Regions from separate parts of the Homo sapiens genome. Here region 1 is linked to region 2. The links come from fine-mapping of genetic effects on gene expression. Tissue or cell type: whole blood. Region 2 holds a variant in brackets; the other region holds the start of a gene. All regions are shown on one strand. Distances are from middle to middle.

Region 1 (8,020 bases), 25 kb after region 2:
CAAGGGTAGTTGTCTGGAAAGCATATATTGTTCTGGATACCAGGGCACTTGGACACTTTGCTGTCATAGAAGTGTGTCCACGCAGGCGTCACTGGCTGCTGCTTTAGCTGTAAACATCGTATGACCATGGGCTGTGGCTGGCAGGTATGTGCCTCATTGGTCTCAAGGTGGAGCTGAACGTAAACGGCTTTTCTCTGGCTCTCCCAGGCTCCTGCTTCCCTGACATCGCCTCACAGACTTCCCTTCAAAGCAGGGCTGTCCAATCTTTTGGCTTCCCCGGGCCGCATTGGAATAAGAAGAATTGCCTTGGGCCAAACATGAAATACACTAACACTCACGATAGCTGATGAGCAAAAAAAGGTCTCTGCGTAAATCTCATAATGTTTTAAGAAAGTTTACAAATTTGTGTTGGGCCACATTCAAAGCCCGCAGCCCGAGTGTTGGACAAGCTTGCTGCAGAGGCTCCCCTAGATAGGGCTGCAGGGGTGGCGTCCGGCAGCTCTAGCTGGAGAAGCAGGAGGAGGGGCAGGAAGGAATCCTGTTCGGAGCTCCTCGCGTCACACATACAGCCCAGCGGGGTGAAGTGGGAGGGGCTGGCGCTGCTGCAGGGGGCTAACCTTGGGGGTGAGGGGGCAGCCTCGGAGAGGAAGCTGCCCAGGAGCAGAGGCTGGGGGCGGAGGGCCCCGGGCAGTGCCCCCGTGCCCACAGCAGGACCCTGGCTGCCAGTTCTCCGCAGAGGGCCAGGTGGTCTGAAGCTGCCCAGCAGGGAGAGAACAGGCCTGGCCTGGACTGGAAACCTGCCATCTGGCCTCTCGAACCTGGGGACTCCGGGTGTCCTCGAAGAAGGGCCTGAGCAGCAGCAGAGGACCCCAGGCGACCGTGCCTGAGCCGGGCGCCGACGACGACTGAGCACCTGATATGTCCCCGGCACTCGCAGCCCCGCGGCCGGAGTCGCTGTGGGTGAGCGGTCGTCGAGCTTCACAGAGGCCGGGCTCTGTGCCAGGGCCCCGACAGGGCAGGAAGCAGATAGAGTCCCACAAGCACAAGCCCAGTGCGCAGAAAGGGTTACTTAAAAAATAAGTTCTGTGATAAAATCAAACAGGGTGAAGGGCTGGAAACAGGTCATGAGGGCGCAAACAGGTCGTGAGGGCGCAAACAGGTCGTGAGGGCGCAAACAGGTCGTGAGGGCGCAAACAGGTCGTGAGGGCGCAAACAGGTCGTGAGGGCGCAAACAGATCGTGAGGGCGCAAACAGGTCGTGAGGGCGCAAACAGGTCGTGAGGGTGCAAACAGGTCGTGAGGGCGCAAACAGGTCGTGAGGGTGCAAACAGGTCGTGAGGGTGCAGCTTTGGGGAGAGAGGGGCCCTGGGGGTGAGCGGGGAGCTAGGAGAGAAACAGCGCTCTGGAGGGGCCCGGGCAAGGCCTGCCTGAGTGGGAGGGGGCAGAGCACGAGGGCCCAGGCTCCAGGCTGGGTGGGACTGCCCTGAAGTGCCTGCGGAGACAGCCAAGGGGCAGATGGAGAGAGGTAGGGGGTGGGCTGGGGACAGCGTTTCCTGTACACAGGTGGAACCTGGTGGCAAGGGGCCCTTCCCAGAGACAGTCAGAGTCTCTAAATGTCCAGTTTCTTCCCCAAGTCCACACAGCCCAGAAGAATCCGCTGGGACCATGTGGCCCTGCCCAGTGGGGCTTCCCTTCCAGTGTGTGAGGAGCACAGGTGCCAGGCCACGTCAGGGAGGCCAGGCCTGGTGGGGACGGGGTGCCCCAGGCCACTGCTGGGGAGGAGTGATGCCCAGCAGAGGGGGCACGGTGGAGTTCATGGCTGGCCTGGTGGTGGGGGGGGTGGGGGAGCTCTGCAGGGCCCTGGCTCTGGTGGGCTGGGTAGGCCTGCTTGGGGCACCATCTGATCTGCCAGAGGTGGAAGGAGCACTCCTGGGAGATGCCGTGCCCTGCACCTCCAGTCCCTGCTTGACGGCGGCCGGGCTTGGACTGATCAGGTGCCGTGCCTTCTGCTGACCCCAGAGGCCAGACCCTGTGGCCAGAGTGAGGGATGGATGAAATCCCAAATCTGAGCCTCCTGCCCGAGGATGAGGCCCCTCTCCAATGAACATCATGGCCCATGGAGACTGGGCAGGGAACCCAAGGGCGCACACTGGGGACTGGGCCTGGAGGGACAGCCGGGGAAGCAGGAGGAAGGGCAGGAAGGACAGCAGGAGGAAGCAGGAAGAAAGGGACAGGAACCAGGCCCGGGATGACAGCAGAGAAGGACCAATGCCCAGCCAGGGCTTCCTCACGTGCCTCTGGGTAGAGAGCCCTGGTCTGGCTCAGGAGGCCCAGGCACTGGTCTCAGACCTGCCACCACCTGTGTGACGCTGGGCCAAGCGCTTCCCTTCCCTGGGCGTCCGTTTCCACCGCTGTAAAGTGGGGAGGGGTGAAACTGAAGCTCTCCCCAGCCTATCCCAGCCGTTGAGGAGGGAGAGGCTGTGGTCAGGGGCTGTGGGGCCCACGTTGAGGAGACGAGGCTCCTGCCCTCAGGGTGGACAGGGCCCAGGAAGGGGGTGCTCTGCACCATGGGGGCGCAGCCTGGGCCTACGGGCTCCCCCACCATGAGCTCAGAAGGAAGATGTCCGCTGAGGAGTTGGGGGCCAGGGAGAATATTCTAGACCAGATAGGGGTGGTCTGGGTAGGCTTCTGAGGGGGTGGGCTTGGAGGAGGGGCCGGTGGCCAAGTCGGGGGGAAGCAGGGGAGGAGCCAGCCTGCCTGCGTGTGCCTCTCACCTGTGTGCATTGGCGTGTGCATGTGTGTGTGCATGTGTGCCAGCGTGTGTGTGTGTATTGGAAGGCGCCCACGGAGCGTGTCTGCATGAACCAGGATGAGTGTGCGTGCTGCACCCTGTCTTGGGGCTGGGCATGAGGCGCTGGGGAGGGCGAGCTGACCGCAGACCCTGGGAGGGCTGGGCCCTGGGAAGGTTTCCGAGATGACAGGGCAGAAGTGGGCTGGGGAGGAGGAAGGCTCCGTGGGCGGGGCTGGAGCGTCTCTGGTTTTGCTGTCTGTCTCTCACGCTGTTTCCAGAACAAATGTGTGCCCTCAGCAAGGATGCTGGCTCTTCAGAGGTGTCAGCACAGGCAGCCGGCACCCCACTTCCCTCCCAGAAATCCCCCACGCCCTCTAGCTGGGGCTGGTGCAGGAGCAGTGGGGAACTCCTGTTACCCCTGACCTGCTGCCGTCAGTCAGCCGCCCGCCCCCCCACCTTAAGGAGGGGCAGAGTCAGGGACCAGCCCTGAGGGGTGGCTCACCCCAGCTTCACTTCCCCCAGCCCTTCTCAGACAGCCACTGTGCAGGCTTTGGCAGCGGGGGTCACACACTCCACCCGGGAGGCCAAAGCTGCCTGCAGGTCAGTGCCGCCCACTGCCCTAGGGGCCTCCCAGCGGGGCAGGGGCATGGTGGGGGTCTCAGAGTGGGGTGAGGCTGTGATGGGGTCTCAGAGCAGGGTGAGGCTATGATGGGGTCTCAGAGTGGGGTGAGGCTGTGACGGGGGTTCTCAGAGCGAGGTGAGGCTGTGACAGGGTCTCAGAGCGGGGTGAGGCTGTGATGGGGGTCTCAGAGCAGGGTGAGGCTGTGATGGGGTCTCAGAGTGGGGTGAGGCTGTGATGGGTGTCTCAGAGTGGGGTGAGGCTGTGATGGGTGTCTCAGAGTGGGGTGAGGCTGTGATGGGGGTCTCAGAGTGGGGTGAGGCTCTGATGGGGTCTCAGAGTGGGGTGAGGCTGTGATGGGTTCTCAGAGCAGGGTGAGGCTGTGATGGGTTCTCAGAGCAGGGTGAGGCTGTGATGGGGTCTCAGAGTGGGGTGAGGCTGTGATGGGGTCTCAGAGTGGGGTGAGGCTGTGATGGGGGTCTCAGAGTGGGGTGAGGCTGTGACGGGGTCTCAGAGCGGGGTGAGGCTGTGATGGGGGTCTCAGAGCGGGGTGAGGCTGTGATGGGGGTCTCAGAGCGGGGTGAGGCTGTGATGGGGTCTCAGAGCGGGGTGAGGCTGTGACGGGGTCTCAGAGTGGGGTGAGGCTGTGATGGGGGTCTCAGAGTGGGGTGAGGCTGTGATGGGGGTCTCAGAGCGGGGTGAGGCTGTGATGGGGTCTCAGAGCGGGGTGAGGCTGTGACGGGGTCTCAGAGTGGGGTGAGGCTGTGACGGGGTCTCAGAGTGGGGTGAGGCTCTGATGGGGTCTCAGAGTGGGGTGAGGCTGTGATGGGGTCTCAGAGTGGGGTGAGGCTGTGATGGGGAGTCTCAGTGAGGTGAGGCTGTGTTGGGGTCTCAGGTGGGCTGAGGCTGTTGGGGTCTCAGGGGTGGCTGAGGCTGATGAAGACTTGGAGCCTGTGTCTGGGTAGCAGCTTGTTGGAGTGTGGGATGTGACATTTAAAAACAAGAATGAAGAATACCCCGTGCTGTGGCCCCGAGGTGAGCAGCTACTTTGGTGAACTCGTGTCACTCACAGCCCCATCCTGGGTCCTGGGGTGTGGTGTGCTGTGTGGGGCCCAGGCCCAGTGGGGTCACAGGTACGGGGGACTCTGGTGCCTGGGCCACAGGGATCTGCACCTCACTGCGTGCCCCCACGTCTTCAGCAGTGGTTGGGGCCTGTGGTCTCAATCCCAGGCCAGCCAGGCACTCTGGGGTCTGGGCGGGTCCCGGGTCCAGACAGGGGGAAGGGCTGGGGAGGGGCTCTGGTGTGGCTGGATCGCCCGTCTATGGCCAGGTTTCTCTCCTGGATCACTCAGTGCAGAATCAAAGGGCACTTTTCTGCTTTTGTGTGCAGAAGCCGAGGGTGACCTTGTCATCAGAAGGGGAAGCGGGGCCTCAGAGGCGTGCTGCTGGCTCCAATCCCCAAAGCCTCCTGGGCAGGAAGTGGAAGGGCCCCATCCCCACGGTCCCCGGCAGCGGGAGCTCCCTGAGGCTGATGGTGCTGGTGTCTGTCGAGGAAGACAGGCCTGAGGAGCTGAGGCGGGAGGCCAGCTACGGTCCACGGCCTGGACACAGATTCCTGTGCGGGACTGGGGCAGTAGGTGGGCATCTGTGCTGGCCATGTTAGCTCCCAGGGGCCCCATGCCATCTGGGCTAAAGCCTGGGCCTTGATTTCCTGAACTTTTCTGGGAGGCACTCCACGGGCGAGACAAGGACCCATGAACAGGGCACTTCTTCGAAGCCTACGTGCACCTCGAAACTCTTGCAACATTTGCATTTTTCTCCCTAATAGTTCAGTGTTTGTTTTATTATAAACAGGAAAATTTAAATGTTGTAGTTAGAGTTTTTTTCTTCTTCTTAGAGATGGGGTTTCACTCTGTCTCCTAAGGCTGGAGTGCAGTGGTGGGATCATAGCTCACTTCAGCCTCAACCTCCTGGGCTCAAGCCGTCTTCCTGCCTCAGCCTCCCGAGTAGCACGCATCACCAGCCCAGCTAATTTTCTGTCTTTTTTTTTTTTTTTTTTTTTTTTTTTGTAGAGACGGGGTCTCCCTGTGATGCCCAGGTTGTTCTTAAACTTCTGGCCTCAAGTCATCCTCCTGTCTCAGCCTCCCAAAGTGTTGGGATTACAGGCATGAGCCACCGTGCCTGCCTGCAGTTAAACATTCCCCCACAAAATACTGGGCCACACCGAGGCTAGTATGAAAGTTGCAGCCCTGGGTATGTGTGACCTGAGAGCCCCTTGGCAGCCATGGGGAGCGATGGGGGAAGCTGGGGCAATGGGAAGGGGTCTAGGCACACGAGCCCTCGGGTCCTCACCTCCCACGAGGCAGGGTCCCAGGCTGCCTCTACTCAAGGTGGGGCAGCAAAAGAATCGCCCTCTAGCTGTGCAGACCCCCTCCCCCTCCAGGTCTGCACACCGCCCAAGGCTGGCCCTGGACTTCTGGTGGATTCAAGTACTCAGGTGGGGAGAGTAGGAGGCCAGTCGCACGGAGCCCTCCCCAACGCACAGTGCCTGCCCAGCTCAGGTGCCTCTGAGGTGTAGATTCTGAGCAGGTTCTGGGATCTCCTGGCCCCCAGCGGGGGCTGCCACAGGAGTATAGGCCCAACAGGAAGGGAAGATCCCAGCGATTGGTTCCAGTGGGTTCTGGGGATGTCCTCGGAGCCTGGCCTGGCTCAGGGTCCCTCCAAAAGTCCCTGGAACGAGGGTGAAGTGTTGCTCATGAATCAGAGAGAAAGCAAGCAGGACCCTCAAGAAGGGAGGAGAGAGACCACTGGGCGTGCAGCACTTTGCACTCGGGGGAAGGGCTCCTGAAACTTGGAAGTCAGCAAATATCTGCTGTACTTCACCAGAGGTGGGATCTAAGGAGACAGAATGAAGCCAGGGGGCAGAATGTTTCGTTTCTGTCTGAAACCTGTGCCCTCCATCCCTCATGGACTGGGGACCTGGAGTTCCCGGGGACCACCGTGGGGAAATGCGTCCCAGCACTAATGGTCCCCAGCAGCTGCAGTCACGGGGTTTGGGCGCTCTCCCCTCCTGATTTGGGGGACCTTTTGTGCTCCTCTGGGCAGAGGGAGGAGGCAGAGGGAGGAGGAAGGCCCTTCGCTGTGGGCTGAGTCCTTCCCACCTTCCATACCAGCCCAGCAGGAAGCCACTGCAGGATGCCCCAGAGGACAGCCTGATGGTTGGGGGAGAGGCTTCTCCCGCCCTCACCCCTCCGGGTTCTTCCTGGACCCACTGAGTAACCCAGGTGGTGGGACGTGTGGCTGTGAGTCCTGGACTCTGGGCGCTCACCAGCAGCTCCGTCTCACACCTGCCTGCGTGTGACACCAGCACCCCTTATGATGAGGAAACAAGTTTGCCCAGCTGCAGGGGTGGCCGAGTCAGGATGACTCTAGCCCGTGTCCTGGACACCAGACCCTGCCCAGGTCCAGCCGGGGCTGGTCTCAGCCTTCCTGGGCTATGTCGCGGAGGGTGTTGGGGACAGCGAGAGGCTGGCGTGGACAGTGGAGGGGTGACTTTGTGGGTGGTCCTGATAGTGACGGAGAGGAGGATACTCAGCTCCACCCCTGGGCGGCCCCTGAGCAGCACGACTGGGCCTGAAGGGGCAGGGCTGCCGTCACAGGCTCTGGCCCCTGGGAGCTCAAGGGGTGAATCCCTGATCCCAGGTGTGGGACTGGGATGGGGCCTCAGGCTGATGCAGGCAGGACCTCCAGAGCTCAGGACTGGGTGGGTGGGCTCACAGGGAGGTAGGGGCAGGCCAGAGTCCCAGCTGTCCTGGACTCTGCTGTGGGGAAGGGCTGATGCAGGTGTGGAGTCAAATGTGGGTGCCTCCTGCAGCCGGGTGCCAGGAGGGGTGGAGGGGCCACCCTGGGCTTTGTCCGGGAGCCTGGTCTTCCCGTCCTTGGGCTGACAGGTGCTGCTGCCTCTGAGCCCTCCCTGCTAAGAGCTGTGTGCTGGGTAAGGCTGGTGGCCCTTTGGGCTCCCTGTCCAGGATTTGCGCTCTGGAGGGTAGGGCTTGCTGGGCTGGGGACTGGAGGGGAACGTGGAGCTCCTTCTGCCTCCTTTCCTGCCCCATGACAGCAGGCAGATCCCAGGAGAGAAGAGCTCAGGAGATGGGAAGAGGATCTGTCCAGGGGTTAGACCTCAAGGGTGACTTGGAGTTCTTTACGGCACCCATGCTTTCTTTGAGGAGTTTTGTGTTTGTGGGTGTGGGGTCGGGGCTCACCTCCTCCCACATCCCTGCCCAGAGGTGGGCAGAGTGGGGGCAGTGCCTTGCTCCCCCTGCTCACTCTCTGCTGACCTCCGGCTCCCTGTGCTGCCCCAGGACCATGAATGGCACCTACAACACCTGTGGCTCCAGCGACCTCACCTGGCCCCCAGCGATCAAGCTGGGCTTCTACGCCTACTTGGGCGTCCTGCTGGTGCTAGGCCTGCTGCTCAACAGCCTGGCGCTCTGGGTGTTCTGCTGCCGCATGCAGCAGTGGACGGAGACCCGCATCTACATGACCAACCTGGCGGTGGCCGACCTCTGCCTGCTGTGCACCTTGCCCTTCGTGCTGCACTCCCTGCGAGAC
Region 2 (8,336 bases):
TTGTCCCAACAGAGGGCTCTGGGCTCAGTCACTTGGGCTCCCCCTGCCCTTCGAGGCGCTGCCTAGAACCCGCACAGGGCCCTCTCCCATCTCCAACCTCTCAGAGGCAAGGCCGAAGATGGCCTCTGGAAGGGCCGGGGGCCTGGGAGGTGGGCAGGGCTGATCCAGGCAGGGCAGGTTTCCAGAGGAGGTGGTGAGTGGGGAGGAAGGGAGAAGTTTGGAGAGGACAGGAGGCCGAGGTTGAGACCAGCGGGGGTGGGTCGAGCCCTGGCTTGGGAACGCAGGGGGCTGATGGACTCAGGAGTGAGAGGAGGGGAGGCCCAGGCTGGCTGGCCACAGCAGCCCCTCGGGTGTGAGGAAGTCCACAGTCACTGAGCTCAGCCAGCAGCCCCTTGTCCACTTACCCTGACTCAGAATGACTGTGTCCCAAGGTTCATTCTCTGCAGACATGTGTCCCCTGGAATGCAGGGGCCCTGACGAGGAAGGCACTGCAACCCTCGGTTCACAGTGGGCTGCCTGGGGACCCTTGGACCCTCGCTGTTTGCCCTGGGCCACCGGCTCAGGTCCCCTAGAGCTCTGAGGAAAACACATGCCAGGGCCAGTGGGAGCCCTTGGGGCGGGCTGGGCAGTCACAGGTGTTAAAGCCCCTGATGATGTGACAGGCCTCCAGGCGGGGGCCCCACTGCCGGCACCTTCTGGCAAGGGTGGCCAGGCCTTGGTGAGGAGGCGAGTCCAGTGTCCAGGCCTGGCAGCCCCTCCTCAGAGAAGGGGCTGTATGTGACTCAAGAGGGCCAAGGGCATCCGAGCAGATGGCCCTGGGCTGGGCTCCCTACCCCAAGGCTGGCCCCCTCAGTCTGAGCCTGCGCTTTCCTCAGGTCCCAGAGGGTGGAAGGAGCCAGGACGCACCCCCACTGCTGCTGCAGGAGCCGCTGCTGAGCTGCGTGCCACATCGCTACGCCCAGGAGGTGAGCCGGCTCTGCCTCCTGCCTGCGGGCACCTACAAGGTTGTGCCCTCCACCTACCTGCCGGACACAGAGGGGGCCTTCACAGTGACCATCGCAACCAGGATTGACAGGTGGGGCTCTGGGACTTGGGGGCGGCCAGCTGGAGGCTGGGGTGCTGGAGTCTTAGTGCTCGCCTGTCCCCCCACGTCTCCTGCCTGCCCCTCACCCTCAAGCCCCTATCTGTCCTGGCAGACCAGGGCTGTCCTGCCTACCTGGGGACCCTTCCTTGCTGGTCTGAGCCTGGAAGGAGAGTCTAGTGGGAGGTGGGCCAGGAGCACACAGCCACTTGTGTGACAAGTGCAGTCTGGGAGCGCTGATCTGGTGTCTCTCCACAGGCCATCCATTCACAGCCAGGAGATGCTGGGCCAGTTCCTCCAAGAGGTGTGTATGCAGCCCCGCCAGCCCGGCTCACCTGCCTGGGGCTGCCTGGTGGCCTAGGGTCTACCTGCAACCTCAGGCAGGTGGTTTCTGCCTGGGACGTGAGGTGCCCTTGACTCTTCCTGTGAGAGCCCCGGGCGGTGCCTTGAAGGGCAGGGGGAGCTGAGGCTGCGTCCCATTCCCTGGCTGCACTCGGGGTGGGGTGTGAGAAGGGGCGAGTGCCACCGCTGCCCGGGCCCCCCATCTGTCTTTGCAGGTCTCCATCATGGCAGTGATGAAAACCTAACAGGGTGGCCCCCTGTGCCAGCTCAGGTGACTGGAGCCCGAGGGCCTGACAGGTTCCCAGCAGCTGGGCCGGCCAGCCTTGCACTGTGGGGGCTGGTCCTGAGTCTTGGCCTGCCTCCCAGCCCTGCCAGGAGGCTGCGGCCTAGGGGTCCACGGGAAGCCTCCGTCAGGAGAGACGCAGCCCTGGGGGCCAGCTGGTGCTGCAAGGAAGGGTGGGAAGCTTGCTGGCTTCTGTTGCGCCACTGAGACGGCAGAGACCCCAGGATCCCAGAGCTTCCCAGGATCCCTCCCAGATCCTCTGCTGACTCCATATGGAGGCCTCACACCCAGAGGGTAGGGCAGCAGATCTTCTTTATAACTATTTATTGTTCGAATCACTTTTAGGATGTAACTTTATAAATAAACATGAGCGCTGATGATTTGCAGATCAGTCTTGCTCCAGGTAGTTCCAGGCTGTGCCTGCTCTTGCCAAGCAGGCTGTGGGGAGGGCTGGGTGCCTGCCGAGATGGTGAGGATGAGGATGGCCTCTGGAGGGGCTGGGGGCCTGGGAGGTGGGCAGAGCCAACCCAGGCAGGGCAGGTTTCAGGGGGAGATGGTGAGTGGGGAGGAGGGGAGAAGTTTGGAGGGGCGGGCCCAGGGCATGCCCCAGGCCAGGGGGCTGAGGTTGAGGCTGGCCGGGGCAGGTCAAGCCCTGGTCTTGGGGGACACAGACTGATAGACTGGGGAGTGAGGGGTGGGGAGAGCCAGCGAAGGCACTGCCAAGGCTGTGGCGAAGAAGGACATCTCGGAAACGGGTGTTAGAACCGGAGTTGCGCAGAGGGAGGAACCCCAGGTTCACATGGACTGGGAGCCTTGGATCTGGACGGCTCCTCTGCCTCCAGCCAGGGTTCACCTGCGCAGTGTCCTAGGATTGTTTATTTCCCCAGGCCTCTCTCCCTCGTCCCTCACACCAAATGCTGTGATGAGAGCTGTAGTGTCACTGAACGGTGCAGAAGACAGTTCCAGACATGGGTGGGGAGGGCTGTCACTAAGCCCTTTTGTTTTAGAGACAGGGTCTTGCTCTGTTGCTCAGGCTGGAGTGCAGTGGCATGATCATAGCTCACTGCAGCCTCGACCTTCTGGGCTCAGGTGATCCTCCCTCTTCAGCCTCCCAGGTGGGTAGGAAAACAGGCGCACACTCCATGCCTGGTTAGTTTTTTCAAGTTTTGAATGCTTAGGGGTCTTAGTATGTGGTTGCCTAGGCTGGCCTCAGTGATCCTCCTGCCTTGGTCTCCCAAAGCACTAAGATTGCAGGCATGACCGCCAACCCCAGCTCTAATCCCTTTTAAATTCCATTCGCTTCCTGAGTCCCTTTGTGCCTGGGGAGACCCCGTGTATTGGTCCTTTTTCACATTGCTGTAAACAACTCTGAGACTGGTAATTTATAAAGAAAAGAGGTTTGATTGCCTCAGTTCCGAAGACTGTACAGGAAGCATGGCTGGGGAGGCCTCAGGAAACTTAGAATCATGGCGGAGGGAAAGCAGGCAGTCTGCAGGTGTCTGGAGAAGGAGGAAGAGAGCGAAGGGGAGGTGCTGTGCACTTTTAAATGACCAGATCTTAGGAGAACTCACTATCACCAAAACAGCAAGGGGGATATCCGCTCCCATGATCCAATCATCTCCCACCAGGCTCCTCCAACACTGGGGATTATAATTCGACATGAGATTTGGGCAGGAACACAAATTCAAACCATAGCACCCAGTGAGCCTGATTTGGGCCTTGCTGCC[G/C]GATCACGACCATCTCTGGAGTCCTGGTGTCTGTTCCCACTGGGACCTGTGCCGCTGTCCCCCTCTCCACGCCCTGGCCACGCCAAGCCACCCTCCTGACTCACCCACAGGAAGCTGCCCTGGCCCTGGAGCCTGCCCCGTGAGCCCCTCTGCTTGCTGGTTCAATGGCCCTCCAGCAGCAGTGGCTGTGGCAGCTGGGTTCTCGGCATCTTCAGACACGGATTCTTGAGCAGCAGGATGGGGCTCCATCTCCCTGCGTGCAGAGCCTGCCACAGATCTCCCTCATCCACTGGCTTCTGTGCTGACTTCGGATGAAGCCAGTGGTGCCGCCTATTGGGGTACAGCAACTCAGGGCGAACAGTGAGGGGCGGCTCACCAAAGAAATACCCCGCAGGGCAGTGCCCAAGCCAGAGGCTTGAGCTGGGTCGGAGCTGCCCTAGATCCCTGGGTTTGTGGGCGGACAGGTCCTGTGCAGGGCGCCTGATGGTGCAGGTTGAGGTGGGACAGTTGGGGTCAAGGTATTTCTCAGGCACAGTGCCTATGAAGGGAAGACAGTTGCAGGGACTGTGTCCATGTCAGGATAGACTGGTGGGGACCCCGTGAAGAGTTCTGGAGCAAACCCTGCCTGCAGGGCCCCACCTGGGCTGGCCAGGCCCTTATGTTGAGCATCCCTTCCCCCAGGCCCTCAGGAGCCACTGTCCCCGAGGCAGGCCCTGAAGGTGGCGGCCACACCCTCCTGCTGGGCAGCTCTGCCCAAAGGCCACAGCCAGGACCTGCTTCCCGCGTCCCAGGCTACTGCCTGAGAGGAGGCCTCGAAAGCGCAGGGTTCCGTGACTTTAGAGGCCATGGTTGGCACCCATCATCGCCCCAGTGTAGATTGGCTCCACTCGACCTGGCTGCTTTGGCCATTTGGTCTACCAGCTGGAACCATGTTCCTGGGTGTGGAAAACGCTCCCTCCGAAGCCTGCGGAGAGCCCTGAGGCCTTGTGCTTCCTTCTGATGGGAGGTTCCAGATGCAGTTGGAGGGGATGTCTGGCAGGGCTCTAACCCCCAGCCAACCTAAACATTTCTGGTGCAGAAGGCCCCGGCCTGGTGTTGTTTGTCCCTGGCTGCCTCCTGCTCTGACACCATCAGCATCCTGTTGCCAAGGTCATGGATCAGTGCGGTGCTCTTCAGGGTGTCCGGCCAGCTGGGGTCTCTGTCCTGTATTCCGGCAGAGGCCCCAGGAGAAACAGCAAATGCCTTTGTCCATTCCATACAAATTTCATATAAATGTGAGCAGCTTCTGATCTTCCGTGGCGTATTCGTCCAGTTGATGGCCAACCCTGGGTACCTGGACCTCCAGGACCTGCTGCACTGGGCTGCCCCTCGGCTGTGTGTGCACTCGCCACGTGGCCCTCCAGGAATCCCATCCCACGGGGCCACACTGAACCAAATGGAGAGAGCAGGGCCACCACCCTCTCTCCGCATGCCACGGCTGCTCTGGGACCCGGGCAGGAGGGGACAGTCTTGGCCTTCCAGTGTCCCTCTTGGCCTTCCCACGGCCATCTCTACCCCAAGGATGCAGCAGAGATATCGGTCGCTCCCCAGGTGTCAATCCCAGTCACAGGCTCAGAGACCGGGACATGGCCCCGGGTGGGTCTGTAGGCCCTGTGGGCTCATGTGAGCTGGTCCTGGGCAGGACTCCATTATTAACTGCCTGTGATGTGTCCCACTGTCATGGAGCCCTGGTGACTCTTGGGGACCAGCATCAGCTTGGGGCCTGTGTGCTCAGTGGCTCCCAGATGCCTGGATATTCTCTTCCTGGTGCACATAGTCCCCGGGGAGGTCCTTGTCATGCACACTTGCTGATGTGGGGAGTGTCCTTCATCTTGCAGGCCTGGCCACCTCTTCAGTCAGCAGATACCTGGGCTGAAAACCGACTCGGGCAGTGTGGGCCCAACTGGGGCTCTATCGGAGTGACCACCCTCAGCCCTCCTGGACCCCTCTGCCGGCTCCACCTGAGCGCTGCCCTCGCTGGCAGCCCTGCCTTGCTCTGCTGCCATTCCGTAAGCCCTGCAGGCAGGCCCCTTGGCGCCCTTCAGCCGTGTTCATGATTGTCTCCTGGCCTCTGCTGTTTAGAGGTCTAATGCCCTCCGCCCCCGGCGAGCCAAACCCAGTGATGGTGGTTCCTGCCACCAGCTTCCTGTGGCACCGCTGCCACTCCCGCCAGGCTCCTGGGGCACCGCCACCACTCCCGCCAGGCTCCTGGGGCACCGCCGGCCACTCCCGCCAGGCTCCTGGGGCACCGCCGCCCACTCCCTCCAGGCTCCTGGGGCACCGCCGCCACTCCCGCCAGGCTCCTGGGGCACCGCCGCCACTCCTGCCAGCCTCCTGCGGCACAGCTGCCACTCCCTATTAACCAGCATGGCACAGGTGAGCGGTGTGACCTTGGTCTTCCCAGGGAACCAGTGCTTGGCAGCTCACACCACACACGCCTACGCCTACCCTCCACCAGCCACAGCAGTTGTGGCATCTCTACCCTGCCCAGCAAAAGTGGAAGTGTTGCCTGTGCCGCTAGGAACCTCCAGGTTTGCTCCACCTCCAGGGGCCTTGCCAGGGTGTCAAACCTGTGTCTCGGGACACTGCTGTTAGGTCTCCAGCTTCCCTATCAGGCGCCTCAGCACCCAGTCCTACCAGTGCTCCCGCCTCCCGTCCCCAGCTGGCTGGGCCTGCAGCCCCCTCCTGTGCCCCGAGCTGGCCGGGCCCGCAGCCCACTCCCTGGTCACTGGATGTTGCTGACACTTCACTCGGTCAGAGCCCTAGCACCCAAGGGGGGCCAGGGCCTGACGGGGGTGGAGCGAGGGGTGGGCCGCGTCTGTGCAGGCTCAGAAGCTTCCTAAGAGGCTGGAGAGTGGAACCTTCAGGCACCACGCACTGCCTCCTCCCTGCCCACGGTCCTGGTTTCTCCAGATGGGGCCTTGGCCTTGGCTAGGTGTTGATCAGGAGCTGGGAGTGCTGCGCCCCGCCCAACTTCTCCAAACTCCAGCCAGGGCACCTCAGTGAGGCCTCAGCCACCTGCGCCTTATTTGCTTCCTCCTTGGAGGCCCTCGTGTCTGTTCATTCATCAAACAGCAGCTGGGGCCCCCAGCAGACCCCCTTCCCCAACTTTCCCACTGGACACTGGAACCAGTTTCACAACTGGACTGGACAGGACGACCACCTTGTGCCAGGCGCCAGCTATCTCCCCTGACCAGTGATGGGTCCTCATTGCCCGTGGGCCGTGAGTGACCCAGTTCCAAATCCCAAATTAGTGACTCTCTTCTCCAATGGGGGTTGGATTCTCCAGAAGCAGAGGCAGACATAGAATTTGGGTGCAAGGTATTTCGGAGGGAAGGTGGAAGAGGTGGGGTTGGTGAGGGAGAAGCCTGGAGTGTCGGTGGCCGGGGTGCCCCCACCTGGCTGAAACGCCTGGTCTTTGTGCCCTGCCTGGCTCAGCCTCCCCAGGCAGACTACCCCATGGCATCCCTGGACAAGGCTGCCCCCAAGAACGCTGCCCACAGCCCAGCCATGGGCCTTCCCTTGGGGCTACCGCCCCGGCTCACACCTGCTGGCCAGCGTATTTACTCCTTGCTGGCTGCACCCTCTCAGCAGTGGCTGTGTAGACCATAACCCTGGGAACACCTGCGGGGAGAAGCGCCCTTGGCCTGGCGGCTTGGGGGAGACACCTGGGGTGTCAGGAGGGAAGGAAGGCAAGCAGGGGTGAGGCACTGTGGGACTTTTCCTGCTTTCTGGGCCAGTGGCCACAGGCCACCCAGTGACATTTCTCTCTCAGCGTCTGCTGGGGTGGACTCTGCAGCGGCTGCAGCCAGCCTGGATCGGCTCCTCGCACAGCTCTGCTTGAGGGTGAAGGCCATCTAGAAACCCTCAGTCCCCTCTCAGCCTCAGAGCTGATAGCGCTGCCTGACCATCAGCAAGCTTGTAATCAGCACCACCTCCAGCATGCCTGCTCCTGGATCTCCGTGAGGCTCCCCTGCCTGTGTCACCCAGGGGCCTCTAGGGGTGCTCTGGAGCTGGGAGCCACTGTCCAGCACTTCCTGCCCTCTCCGGCCTCTCTTGGCTGTCTGCCAAGCAGTCACTCAGTCTCCTATTGACCACTCGTTTTGCCGCAAGGCTGCTGGTTTACGTGAAAATAGAGAAAGCCAAAGAGTTTCCTCACCCCTGTAAGATTTACTGGCTCTTCTGGCATTGCACCTGCCTGAGTTCCTTGGTGGGGCCCCTCTTTGAGTTCCTTTGGGCTGCTGTAACAAAGCACCATAGCCTGGGCAGCTCGTAAACAGTGGAAATGCGTTGCTCTTTGTTCTGGAGGCTGCAAGTCCAAGATTGAGGCACTGGAAGACCTGGTGCCTGGTGAGGACCTGCTTCCTGGTCCAGAGACAGCACCTTCTCTCTGTGTCCTGATGTGGTGGAAGGGCAAAGGAACTCCCTGGGGCCCGTTTTATGTGGGCACTCATCCCATTCGTGACGCCTCTGCCTTCATGACCTCATCACCTACCAGAGGTCCCCACCTTTTCATTCCTCACCTTGGGGATGAGGACTTCAGTATGTGAATTTCGGGGACATAAATGTGTCATCTATAGAAGGGCCCATCTCTTACACAAATGCTGGGTCCCCAGTGGCCTGTGTCCTAGCAAATGAGAGCCACCCTGAAAAATAAAATCCTGTCTCCCCAACGCCAGCCCTGGCAAGGCACCCAGAACTCTCCGGAATGCTTGAAGGCAGGGCCTGGCCTTTCCATGGGGTCCAGGGCTGTGGGGTCCCTGGCGGTACTGTGGGCCTGCAGAGTGGGGCATGTGGGCTGAAGACCGTCTCCCCACCATGGTGGGAAGGGACAAAGGGTGGCCCTGGCAGATCCGGACGGGCA

The links. PIP is the estimated chance that this variant, and not a neighbour inherited with it, causes the effect.
Region 1: it holds the start of GPR35, and the variant in region 2 is fine-mapped to the expression of GPR35 in whole blood (TOPMed, PIP 0.95).

The regions. Positions count from the first base shown.
Region 1 is chr2:240,622,179-240,630,198 of GRCh38, forward strand. It overlaps GPR35 (G protein-coupled receptor 35), which reads left to right and starts at 3,302. Exons shown (of 2, transcript NM_005301.5): 1 at 3,302-3,390; 2 at 7,771-8,020. The coding sequence starts at 7,775. RefSeq lists enhancers at 2,499-2,648, 3,256-3,762 and a silencer at 7,934-8,020.
Region 2 is chr2:240,597,013-240,605,348 of GRCh38, forward strand. It overlaps CAPN10 (calpain 10), which reads left to right. Exons shown (of 12, transcript NM_023083.4): 10 at 876-1,075; 11 at 1,340-1,385; 12 at 1,639-2,092. The coding sequence ends at 1,668. Among named protein-coding and RNA genes, the nearest start is that of CAPN10, 14 kb to the left of the region's middle. The variant G/C (reference allele first, on the strand shown) is at 3,434.